Linked DNA regions of Homo sapiens: all the other regions are reported to be linked to region 1. The links are microRNA targets in miRTarBase. Many come from high-throughput screens and were not tested one by one. Region 1 holds a microRNA gene; each other region holds the end of a gene's coding sequence. Distances are from middle to middle.

Evidence for each region. Region 1 holds the annotated microRNA hsa-miR-4267 (UCCAGCUCGGUGGCAC, at 2,265-2,280, shown strand). A microRNA usually pairs through its seed, bases 2 to 8, with sites in the 3' UTR of a target mRNA and lowers its output. Matches are read on the target gene's strand: a 7mer-m8 pairs with bases 2 to 8, a 7mer-A1 pairs with bases 2 to 7 and ends in A, and an 8mer does both.
Region 2: miRTarBase lists SNAP47 as a target of hsa-miR-4267. The part of its 3' UTR that is shown has no 7-base or 8-base seed match.
Region 3: the mRNA of TGFBI is a reported target of hsa-miR-4267. Seed matches in the 3' UTR shown: 7mer-A1 at 2,122-2,128.
Region 4: miRTarBase lists LRRFIP1 as a target of hsa-miR-4267. Seed matches in the 3' UTR shown: 7mer-A1 at 1,890-1,896.

Annotation. Positions count from the first base shown.
Region 1 is chr2:110,069,134-110,072,296 of GRCh38, reverse strand. MIR4267 (microRNA 4267) reads left to right here and starts at 2,255; the gene lies at 2,255-2,336.
Region 2 is chr1:227,780,245-227,783,407 of GRCh38, forward strand. SNAP47 (synaptosome associated protein 47) reads left to right here. Exons shown (of 5, transcript NM_053052.4): 5 at 283-982. The coding sequence ends at 429. Among named protein-coding and RNA genes, the nearest start is that of PRSS38, 34 kb to the right of the region's middle.
Region 3 is chr5:136,062,758-136,065,757 of GRCh38, reverse strand. TGFBI (transforming growth factor beta induced) reads right to left here. Exons shown (of 17, transcript NM_000358.3): 17 at 1,940-2,572. The coding sequence ends at 2,532. Among named protein-coding and RNA genes, the nearest start is that of TGFBI, 35 kb to the right of the region's middle. RefSeq lists a silencer at 2,981-3,000.
Region 4 is chr2:237,779,166-237,782,328 of GRCh38, forward strand. It overlaps LRRFIP1 (LRR binding FLII interacting protein 1), which reads left to right. Exons shown (of 24, transcript NM_001137550.2): 24 at 257-2,478. The coding sequence ends at 367. Among named protein-coding and RNA genes, the nearest start is that of RBM44, 18 kb to the right of the region's middle.

The DNA of each region.
Region 1 (3,163 bases):
ATGCCCTCTCTCACCACTCCTATTCAACATAGAGTTAAGGCCCTTTTTAAGAGAAAATAACTGGGGAGCCCGCTGGAGGCGGGGATCTGGCTGAGAGCTGGGTTCGGTTACTCGAATGCACCACTGGGTGGCGCCCGCGCTCCGCGCGAAGGCCGGGAGGGGCAGTCCTCGAGTGACATCAGGTGGGCAGAGCCGGGAGCCCGGACCGGCCCGTGCAAACTCTCAGGATCTTACCGGGAAGGCACCCTATGCAGGCGCAGGAGTGACACGGAGGTGCCTGGAAGAGGGGCTTCCACTTGAAGCCCCTTTTTGCTCAGTCGGGTCACTGGGCGCCCGCAGTGTCCCAGGGCACGCCTGCGCTAAAACGGGACACCGGCTCATGCTGGCGGCTCCCGGGGCAGCTGAGGGACCGTGGCTAAGGACATTGGGGTCCCAGGGCTACAGGGAAAGAATCGTGACTGTCCACACTTTGTTAAAAGCCCACCTGTTTCCTTCATCAGCCGCTGCTGTCTGGTGTGTATCCAGGTCTCTAGAAGCTTCCAGGGGCACCTTGACCTGCCCCAGCTCCTACCCTTCCTCTCCAGGGCCCTATAAGACAAATTTACACAGGTGTTTCTCTCACCCTGGACCCGATTATTTGGCCCCACCTGCTGCTGAAATTCTGCCGCTGGGTCCAAGGAGGGGCTGCCCCAGCGAGCACTGGCTCCCACCATCTGGGACACATGCCCGTCTCTCTGTGCCTCAGTTTACTTCTCCATGTACTGAGGGACACAAAGATCCGCTCCAAGGCCCTCCCAGGTCACTACCACCTCCTAGAGAGGGGCAGAGTGTGCCCCTGGGCCACTTTCGTGCAGTGAGAGGGCACATCGTGAGGCCCGAATCAAACCCAGGGCTCCTTCCTTTTATTTTTTATTTATTTATTTTTTCAGACAGGGTCTCACTCTGTTGCAGCGGCTGGTGTGCAGTGGCTAGATCATAGCTCACTGCAGCCTTGGCCTGTGAGGCTCAAGCGATCCTCCCACCTCAGCCTCCCAAGTAGTTGGGACTACAGGTGTGCACCACCCACCTTGCTAATTTTTCGTTTTTTGTGGAGACAGATTTGGCCATGTTGCCCAGGCTAGTCTCAAACTCCTGGGCTCAACCATCTGCCTGCCTTGGCCACTCAAAGTGCTGGGATTACAGGTGTCCGTGCCCTGTCCTGGGGTCCCTTCTGAACGAGGCTCCTTTGGTGTGGATTCAGGAGACACAGATGTGGGAGAAGCTGAGATCTTCCAGGAAGGACACAACCCTGGGAGCACGTGCCTGCTGAGACAGCCATGATGTTTGCTTTCAGCCAAAGCTGGAAGATTTAGTTCTGTTGCACACATGGCTGCTGAGCATCTGCTGGGTGCCTGTTCCTGGGCCAGGGCCTCCTGCTCTCCAGAACCTGGAAGGCTGGGAGCAGAATAAGACAGATCTAGAGGCCTCACGTCTTAGGGTGAGGGGTCACCGGCCCCAGCTGGAAGTGGAGGGGAGGGACTTACTAGAGGCCTCCTAGAAAGTGTGACCTCCCAAAAGTTACTAGAATGATTGCTGGTCAAGCACCTGGACCCTTCTGGTCTACGATCACCCTGGTGGAGCTCTGGAGGATGAAGGGCAGCCTGTGGGGAGAGTCCGCTGGGAACAGCATGAGGAAGGGCACCGGAACAGCAGCAGCCAGCTGGCTGGTGACTGGCGAGAGTCTGGGCCAAGGTCTGGCTCACAAGGATTGGGTGTTCCTGTGACTTCCCACAGGGAATGGGGAGCTCTGGAAGGGGGTAGGGTTTAAGCAGGGAGTGGCAGATCCTTGTGCCTGCACTGGCTACCGGGGAGGGTGACGACTGCAGGGAGGTGACCTGAGTCTCTTTGAGAGCTGTGTCCTTCTCAAGGACTTTGTGTACTTTGAATTCCCTAAGAACTAAACATTGCCATTTTGGGTCAACATCGTGATATATATTCTATCATTATACTTTTTATTAGGCTTAGTAACTATTATAATAGCAGTGTTCTCATGGAGCCTCGGAGGATCAAAGCCCTTGCACGGATGTTTTCTCCATGGCCATTGGGATGTCTACTTGTCAGCAGATTGGCAGATATTCGATGACACCCTCACAGTCCCCCAGGGAGTGATGACTTCTGGATGAGGTTGGCACTAGGGCTGCCATCTCAGAACCCAGAGTAGGCCCAGGGGTGGTATCTCCGAAGGAGCCGAGGATTCTCCGTGATGACTTGCAAACTCAGCAGGCTCCAGCTCGGTGGCACTGGGGGAAGGCTCCAGACCCCAGCCTCTGTCATCCCTGCATGGAGCCCACATCTCCAAGGAGGCTGGGAGATCCTGTTTGGGGGTCAATTTAAATGTGAAGGAGCAGAATACAGAGAGTTTGGGAACCCAAGGAGGGGACAAAAGACAGAATCAGGACCCAGTCTTAAATACGCTCAGATTGCTGGGCACCTCCTCATGACAGGCTGGGCCCTGGGTACTGGATGCTAGGATGAATGAGAAATGGCCTCTGCCCTTGAGGGGCTCACAGACACCAGAAAAGACAAACCAGGAGAGTCAGAAAAAGGAAGAGCAAGGTGCTGGGGAACTGAGCCCCGAACCCCATTTCCCACTCTTACTACCCATGCCCCCTGCATGTGACATGGCCAGAATTTGTCCCTGCCTTGTGCCTTTAACTGTGGGGAATCCTGGAATTTTCTAGAAATCCAATTTCACAGAATGAAAGTTTTTCTTTTTCAGAGGTGATCCACTAAAACTTTAACTTAATTTCATTTTATGCTTCTTTAAAATTCGTTGATGTAAATAACTTACAAATCAAAAAAAGCCAAATTTGGTTTTGGAAATTACAGCCTGCACAGTTCACACATATGTGTGCACACATGCACAGGCACACACACAAAAGGTGCTGCCCACCGTGGGAGCTCAGCCTGAACTCGCACATGTGGATACATGTGCTTGGGCTCAGACCCCAAGCAAAGGCCAGAAGAACAGCTGTCGCTCTGTGAGAATTGGCTGGAAGCTGCAGGGAACACCTGTAGGAGCTGTTGGGGAGCCCTCCTGCCTCTGGCCACCTGTGTTGGGGTAGGTCAGGTAAGGAGTGATGGAGAAAGGTGGAGCGATGGTGGACAGGACGGGCGCTTCTCC
Region 2 (3,163 bases), not on the chromosome of region 1:
GAGATGGCAGGCCAGGGTGTGGCCACTGCACCAGGCAGGAGGTGCGGGCAGGCAGCTGGCAGGAGGTGGGGCAGGCACCTCATCTCATCAGGCCTGTACTGGCAGAGGCAGAGCCATGACCTGACCCTGGTGCTGGGCTGCCGGCTCCCTCCTGCTGGCTCGCAGATGGCATCACCCAGGTGGTAACGCAAAGGCTCTTGGGTGTGTGAGAGGGGGAGATGTTGTCTGTGCTAGAGTTTGCAGAGATGGCAGCCTCTGCTGTGATCTTGTGCTTCTCCCCAGATCCTGAGGAGGATGAAGGGGCTGGCCCTGGAGGCCGAGAGTGAGCTGGAGAGACAAGACGAAGCCCTGGATGGCGTTGCAGCAGCTGTGGACAGGGCAACCTTGACCATCGACAAGCACAACAGGCGGATGAAGAGGCTGACCTAGGGGCAGAACGTCCCTGCATTCCTGTCTCACCCTGCACATCCCGCTGAGATGGAGGGCTGGGCGGCAGTGCCAGGGCTGCAGAGGCCTGTGGCCCTCCGGAGTGGTCTTCCTCTGGATGGGGCTGCTACTGTGGGGCTGCTTCTGCACCAGGGGCCTCCCCAGGTGTGCACCATGCCTGCCTCCCACTTGGCTGTCCCTGCTGCTGGGCAGGACCCGGCCACATGTTCTGCGGATGCTGCAGAAGTGTGGACCATGGCGGGACCCCAAGGACACTTGGCACAGGCCTGGAAGAGGCCGCCCTCGTCTTGTCTCGGCTCCCTTTCATGGACAGACTGGCCTTCTTAGCTGTACTATAAATTTGTGAGTGAAGTTAGAGCCCAGCTCACTTAGCCAGCTCACTTTGAGGGCATCCTATAAACACCCAACTGTTCTTTTATCGTCTCGGTTTTAGCCAAAAGTGAAATTAGCATGACTGCATCTTTCAAACAAAAATATTGATTTCTGCTTTTAGGGCCCCGTTTCCATCCAGAAATAAAGGGAAATGCTGGCTTCAGAGTGGTTTTTGAAGATGGGTGCCAGTGTTTCCACCTGGTGCCTTGTGTCTGGGTCAGTGGCCACTCCCTCAGAGGCCCTGGGGTAGGTGAGCATGGCCTCTGGCGGGACTGCGCGTCACATTGCGGGTGGTGCCCCTTTGCCATGCTGCTTTCAGATGCCCCGTGCAGGGCTGCAAGGAAGGGTGCGGGCACATGGGAGGCGAGTCCCAGGATGGTGCCACGGCCCAGCCTGTGGGGCCTCCACGCTGGTGCACCCAATGCCCAGTGGTGCTGCCTTCCCAGGGCTGCTCAGTGAGCCTCACACACAGGGGCCCTCGCAGCTTTGCAGCCAGAAGCCCCACGTTGAGATATCCTGGGCGTGCTCCCTCCAAAGGTTCTGGGGAGGACCCTGCACGGCCGCCTGCCACAGGTCCAGGGCCCAACCTAATCCAGGATGGCCTGGTCTTGATGTCACTCACTGAGAATGTCTGCTAAGACCCCAGTTCCACAGGAGGTCCTGCTCTGAGGCTCCAGCTGGACTAGGGGCTGCAATGCCAGTCGCCAGAGCCAGTGCAGGTGCCTGGCAGGAAAACTGGGAAGCAGCCTCTCTAGAAAGCCACAGCCCAGGGAGCTCTGATTTTTTTTTTTTTTTTTTTTTTTTGAGAGGGAGTTTCACTCTTGTTGCCCAGGCTGGAGTGCAATGGCATGATCTCAGCTCACCACAACCTCCGCCTCCCAGGTTCAAGCGATTCTCCTGCCTCAGCCTCCCGAGTAGCTGGGATTACAGGCATGCGCCACCACACCTGGCTAACTTTGTATTTTTAGTAGAGATGGGGTTTCTCCATGTTGGTCAGCCTGGTCTCAACCTCTCGACCTCAAGTGATCCGCCCGCCTCAGCCTCCCACAGTGCTGAGATTACAGGCGTGAGCCACTGCACCCAGCACTCTGATGTTATTTTTTGTTTGATCTGGGAAATTGTTTTCTGCTTTTTCTTATTTGGTTTATACTTAGCAGCCTGCAGAAGGAGACCTTGCCCTGTCCCCTCTGGGGTCCTTCCACTAAGGCCACAGGTGAGTGAGTGCTCCCAGCCTGTCTGGACACCCCAAGGAGGCCAGTGTTGGCCCTCAAGCCTAGCCCAAGGCATGCGGACACCATGGCCCCCCCTCCTGTCAGTGCTGGGAGCCGGCAGCAAGGGCTCACCATGCCTGCAGCCACCGTGCAGACCCCCATCAAGCCTGGAAGAGGCTGCACCCTGTCCTCAGGACCTCACAGTGTGAGTGGGGTCTCCTCTGTCCCTGACCCCTCGCTGTTCTCAGGACTTCACAGTGTGGGTGGGGTCTCCCCTGTCCCTGACCTCTCACTGTCAGCAAGTCCTTGCAATATCAGGTGAGGCCTTTTGTGTCACTTGACCATTCCTTGTCCACTGGACCTCAAAACTAACATGATATACAGTAGTAAGAATGTAGAAACTTTCCCACTAAAATCACGACCAAGGCCCATACATCCGCTCTCACCATCTCCTTTCAGCACTTTAAGCTCTAACAGATGGAACAAGGCAAGAAAAGGAAGTTAAAGTTTAATGATACTGAAAGAAGAAACAAACTCTCTTTGTTCACAAATGACATTTTCCAGGTAGAAAGTGTAAAAAGGGATCAAGAAAATCCCCTAGAATAATGAACAACTATTCAAGATTTCAAAATATACAAAAGTTAATCACTTTCCTATATACCAACAATGGATGAGTGGATTTGAAGTTAAAAACAAAGTACTTCTACTTTAGCACCCCCAAACAATAAAATACTTAGGTACAAGTCTAAAAAAAGTGTACTCTTTCTATATATATGAGAAAAACTACAAAACCCTGATGAACAAAAGAAGAACCAAATAAATGGAGAAAAATTCCATGTTTATGGATAAGAAGACTCAGTATTTTCAACATGTTTGTTCCTTCCAGCTTGATCTATAGATTCAATGCAATTTCAATCAAAATCCCTGCAAGTTATTTTGTGGATATTAACAGATGATCCTAAAGTTTTTATGGAGAGGCAAAAGACCCAGAATAATCAATTCAATACTGAAGGAGAGGAGCAGAGTTGGAGGACTGACGCTACCTGACTAGAAGACTTACTACAAAGCTGCAGTTACCAAACCAGTGTGTTATTGGTAAAAGGAGAGACAAATAATAGAACAGATTAGGGGAC
Region 3 (3,000 bases), not on the chromosome of region 1:
GCTTAGCCCGAGTCTTCATGAGAAAAGAAGGGGTATGGATGGTTAGGAACCAAAAAAGGGAATCTGACCTTCTTTGGTGGGAGGGGAAGGCTGCGCCTTGTCCTCAACCACAGGGAGGATTTCTCTCCAGGGAGAGTTTGGAGCATAGAGTGGAGCCCACATTACTAGGGGGTGGGGCAAAGTCAGGGCAGGGAGTGGCAGGGACAAATGAAGGGGAGAACTGGAAACACACATCTTAGTGTTTGGCATTTATAATGGATCCTGTAGTGATTTTTACTTTAAATTTAAGGGTCTTTAAAACTTATGCTGATCACCTCTTTGGTTTCCGAGGTCATCTTGGTAAAGTGCAGTGTGTGTATTTTAGGTGCTCAAAGTGAAGCATAGCATAGGATACCCAGCATGAGCAAGGCCCTCACTAGCCGCCCAAGCCCGCATGGCTGCAGGGGAGGTGGGAACAGCAGGACAGAGCTATGGGAGAGTGACGGGAACTGAATTCACACCCAAGGTTAAGCCTTACCTCTCAGGACACCTTCTCCCTTGGTCCCCTAGCCTGATGCCTTCACCTTCAGGTAAGTTCCTTCCATTCCTCTCATCTCTTCCCACTTCTGGGAGCTCCTGGGCATTCCTGCTTCCAAATCCTTCATTATCTGTCACAGAACCACAGTGCTATCCTCAGAGTCACTAAGAACACACAGGCTGTAGTGCCATTATCTGGTTGACAATTCTCTTCCCCCCCATCAGTAGAGAAGCCTCATGAGAATGACATGTCTATTCCCCAGGGTCTAACATGGGGGTGCACATAGGTAGCCCTCAACAAATATTTGTGGAACCAATGGATGAATGATTTTAATGGATTGATGTCATATCTCTCTTTCCTCAGACTGGAAGCTATTTAAGAGAGGGCCTCTGTCTGCCACTACCATTGCTGTATTCCCAGCAGCAGTGGACTGACCAGCAGTAGTGCTGGGGATATATCTTTGGGTCATTGGTTCCATGAAGTGAAATGAGCTCCGCCTGCTGGAGTGAATCAGCCTTGGCAGAGATGGGTGTGGGTGGGAAGGAGGTCTGTCCCATTCTCTAGGAAAGTGGGCCAGCCCACCTGTGGGAAAGACACAAATAAAGGCTCTCTGGCGCATTGATCCTGAGCAGTCCCAGACGGCAGGATAAAAATAAGGCCACCTAATGTTGTACCAAGCATTTTATATAGATCATCTCATTTCATCCTCACGATGGACCCATGAAGTAGATGTGACGGTCATCTCCCTATTACAGAAGAGGAGACCCTGGGAGGTCACATGACTGGCCCCAGGCCACACAGGTAGGGGGCAATGGCACCACAACCACATGATATCACCTCTCAGAGTCCTGAGGATATTCTAGATGCCAGAGATTACGGGAGCCGGGGAAGGAATCTGAATGTGGGTTGGCACAGAGGGGATGGGCCTGGAAAACCTGGACTTATGCTGTTGTCAGTGGTGGTCACTGAGAGTCAGGAGGTGTGAGTTCCAGTCCCAGCTCAGCTATTTTACGTGCTGCTGGTGGTTCTCCCTTCCCTGGGCCTTGGTCTCCTCATCTGCATAATGGGATTATGCTGGCAACCACTTCACAGGTTGGTGCTGAGGACTCAAAAGTCCAGCACACAGGCAGGGGATCACCATGCTGGAGGGAAGGTACTTCCAAGTAATAAGAGGAATAAAGTGCGGGGTGAAGGCAACACTGAAAACTTGAAACCCCAGGACCGGAGGAGGGTGAAATAAAAACCTGTTTGGCAAAGACAGGCTCAAACCCCCATGAGCTGTCTGGCTGTCTGAGGGCTGGCTGCTGGAATCTCCCCAAAACCATCCCTCGGGGCTCCTTTCTGAGCTTCTCCAGAGCAGAATTGAGGTGTGGAGGAGCATGACGGCCTCAGGTCAGCACACTGTACCATGCACACAGGACGTATGTTTCTTTGGTTTTATTATTACAAACACACCATGGCTCTGTCACAATAGGGAAATCTAAGCTCTACATACCATTTCTTTTCTACCTGGACAGGGCCCCATAAAAGCCTCCAAGCCACGTGTAGATGTGAGACACATTTGACAGAACATTTCAACTCATAGCTTATAATGATGCCATTTCTCCAGCTGTGCAAGGGCTTTACAAAAACTGTGCCAGGACTTCCCATGAGGCTGGATTGCTTGATTCATGTTTTATGAGCCCCACAATACTGAAGCTCCTTTTCCAGGGACTTGGCATAGGCAGTCAATTCCACATTTGGGATAGGTCCTCTCTGGAAGTGAATGTCAGGCAGTGACATCCAAGTTTCTGCATGCAGTGGGTTAACAGCCATGTTTAGGGGGAACATGATTTAAAAAGTACATCTCTCTCCCTCCTCCCCCACATGCACAAGGCTCACATCTCATTATGGTGCGGCCCATGTACATTAAAGTGTGATACTTGGTTTTGAAAACATTCAAACAGTCTCTGTGGAAATCTGAGAGAAATTGGCGGAGAGCTGCCGTGGTGCATTCCTCCTGTAGTGCTTCAAGCTAATGCTTCATCCTCTCTAATAACTTTTGATAGACAGGGGCTGAAAAAGAGAAGTTGGTAACGTCAAATAGGTGCAGATCTCCCCATGTCTGTCTAGGACACTGTCAGAATCTCAAGGACCAGGGCCAAGCAGCCTCCTTCTGCCATGCTCTCCTGCACATAGCAGGTGCTTTGTGGTTTGTGAAACTTCACTCTTTACTCAAGGCCCGATGTTCTGGTTTTCTGTACCTATCAACTTGGAACTAGATCCTCACCATGGGTTCCTGCCAAGCCCTTTGCAATATTCCCAGACTTCCTAAGCTGAAAACTCACCTTAACCCTAAAAGGTTGTTACTCTTATTATCCTCATCTTACAGAGAAGGAAATGGGGTGCTCTGGGTCTGACCCCAAGTCACCCTGCTGTTCTGACTCCAAAGGCCAGGCTTCTTTTACTGCACCATGATGTTCTTATCTATATACAGCAGATGG
Region 4 (3,163 bases), 130 Mb from region 1:
ATCACGCCACTGCACTCCAGCCTGGGCGACTGAGCGAGATTCCATCTCAAGAAAAAAAAAAGAAAACCATCAGGATCCCCAAGGGTGTTCCCTCTCTGGAGTCCAGTTGTTTCAGAGGAGGAAGGGCATCATGAGGGACCAGGGGCCAAGTTATCATTTTATTTTTCAGTAGGATTGGAATTTCGGTAACACAGAACCCTGTTATGTTTGGAGGAAACAAGTTCCTTAAAGCTCACTGCCTTTCCTCCGTTCCCAGCTCCGCTCTGCATTGGATAAAACAGAAGAGCTCGAGGTGAGCAACGGCCACTTAGTGAAGCGTCTGGAAAAAATGAAAGCAAATCGGAGTGCACTCTTGTCCCAGCAGTAAATTCCAGCTCTGATCAGGCAACTGGTTGGTGACTGGAGAGCATTGTTTCATAGGCTTTTCTCTGTCCTATCTGGGAGCGCTGCTTCTTCCCCTGCCTTCCGAGAGACGAAGACCGTGGCGAGCTTGGCGCTTAGGGGCTCCCGTGCCATGGCTCACCCCAGGGAGCCCCAGCAGCCACCAGGTGCCTCTGTCTGCAGACCCCTGGCCCGGGCTGGCGCCGACGCTCAGAACCTGCAGGTACTTCATAAGCACACAGGGGCCTCGAGGGAGCTCTGTGTCTGACCGCACAGCAGCCTCTGAATGCCGCTGGAAGTGATGATCAAAGTAAAGATTCAGTTGGGACTTGAGTTTTTTTTTTTTTTCATGTGTCTTGCTGAAGATTAAGGGGAAATGTTACAGTGTTGGGACTTCCTTTCATGGCAGAATCTACAATTTGAGCGACTTCAGTAGTATCTCTTAGTCTACGCTTTTCATACACAAAACACTGTGGAACCACAAGCCATTACCAAGCAAAACTCTTTCACTGGAAACAAGGGGGCAGTCTAGAAGTAAAAGTGACCTTAAGAAGACTCTTTACAGGCAACAAATGAAGCTTTTCTAAGGGATTTTTGCATCAGTTCAGTCATAAGAATACTTTTTTCCAGGGTAATTAGGCAATAGCTTCACTGAAAATGACAGCTTTTCATTGCATTATTTAATCCTTATATTTGGAATTGAAGTCGTTAACTTCTTTTAAAGAATGTACTATTAGAAAAATTAAAAATGAAATGTTGAGAGACTTCAGCAATGTGGTTCTAATTTTTTTCCACTGAGAAAGAAGATCTTTAATTTCATATTAATGGTTCTGTATATTTTGGGTCATCTTTTTATTTTTTAAGAATATCAAGTCAATTCATTTTTCTTTCCCTATTTAAAAAAAAAGGTGTTTTCACAGAATGAGTGCACTTAAAAAGTGAAGTGAAGGAGGAGGTAACAGTAGAGACGATGGCAATATCATCAAGGACAAAAGTAAAAACGTTTAGCTACCTGCTGATTTTTAGTGACTGTTCATATATGTTGTATTTCAAGTATGGCTGGTGAAGCCAGTCAGCTTTTCGGGACGTTAGCAAGTGGAAACTGAGTCAGTATCATCCAAAACCATATCTAGTCTTAACACATGGAGAATGCTGGAGTGAGGGTTGTGAGTTCAGGGTATATAATCAAGAAAACACTCCCAGCATAATGCTAGGGGTCACCAGTGTCCATCCCCCAGAACTGTATGGATCTAGGATATACACAGCTGCGTTGCATTAAGAAAGAGATGAAATCTCTATTAAAATACACAAGATTTTTGTATCTCCTTGTGCAGAGGATATTTGCCACTGCCCATTGGGAAGCAGACAAGTTATAGGGGGCTGGGGGCCAACACTGGCAAGTAGGAAACCACGGGTCGGACAGGTGAGCAAAATGTGCTGGCAGGTGGGCACCACTGGGAGACCCACACTGCACACCCGGGCACCGTATGAACAGGAAAGAGGAAGGAAGCTGGACGAAGCCCCTCAGGGACCCTGTGCTGACCATGCTGGGCCCACCGGCAAAAGGGAGATATTCAGTTCCTTGTCTCATCCTTAAGGTTTCTTCCACAACATCTGAATACAAGCATGTTTAACTGGGAAAATGTCTATGTCATGCGTGAATAACACCAGCAGCAAACACTCACACATCACGCAGACACGGCCGGCAGCATGCTGACGCTTTTAGGTATTTTTCACTCATGCAATTTTCACATATTTTCACTCATTTCATTTGCACGGAAATTCTATGAGGTAGATGCTGTTATCAAATCCACATTACAGATGAGGGACCCAGGGTCCAGGAAGGTGAACTGGCAGAAGTCTCCCAGCTGGTAGAACAGGGCTGCAAGGCATCGATTCCCAGGTGTCTCACAGCCCTGAGAAGATGGCGTTTTCCCTATCAGTGGCTCTGAGGAAGTCAAGCCTTCAGTCTCTACCTCTCCCACCAATTCTTTTGGAAACAGCAAACCAATGTTACACACACTTCCTAATCCAGAGGAAGCTAGAACACGATTTTTAAATTTATTTAGTAAAATAAAACTTTTTTTGCAGATGTAACGAATGGAAATTGGTTGCTGGCTTCTTTCATCCCTGCAACCTAGCGTTTCTCAGCCTCAGCACGACGGTCGTCTGGAGCTGGGTCGTTCTTGGTGGCTGGGGTGGCTGTCCCCTGCACCGTGGGATGTTGAGCAGCAACACTGAACTCTACCAACTCATTGCCAGTAGACCCCACTCCCGGTCATGACACACAAAAACATCACCAGACATTGCCAAATGTCCACTGCGGGGGTGAGGGGCGTGTAAAAGCGCCTCCCATTGAGAACCACTGCTGTAACCTGAATTAGAAGATTTGGAAAAGAAATGGTTGAAAACCCAGACCAGGATCCCTGTTGTATGTTTCCTATGAATGATTTTCATTTTTAGAAATGAAATAACATCTAGGACATAGAGCAAAACACTCAAAACACATCATAAATGGATAACATAAATAGATAAAAATCCAATGCAGTTCAGAATTACAATCAAATGTTATTTTCTCTTGTGTTTTAGAATTCCTCATTTTCATAGTCAAAATATCAACTAAAGCATCAAAAGTTCCTGTTGATATTTTTGAAAATGTGTTACTACTTAGCAAATTTGGATTTCTGGTTTGTACAGTGCTGAGCCCTTGAGGAATACCAGAAGAATGCACACCTTAAGGAGGCTGTGGTTTTCAGGGAGAGAACAGCCATGCATGAGGATG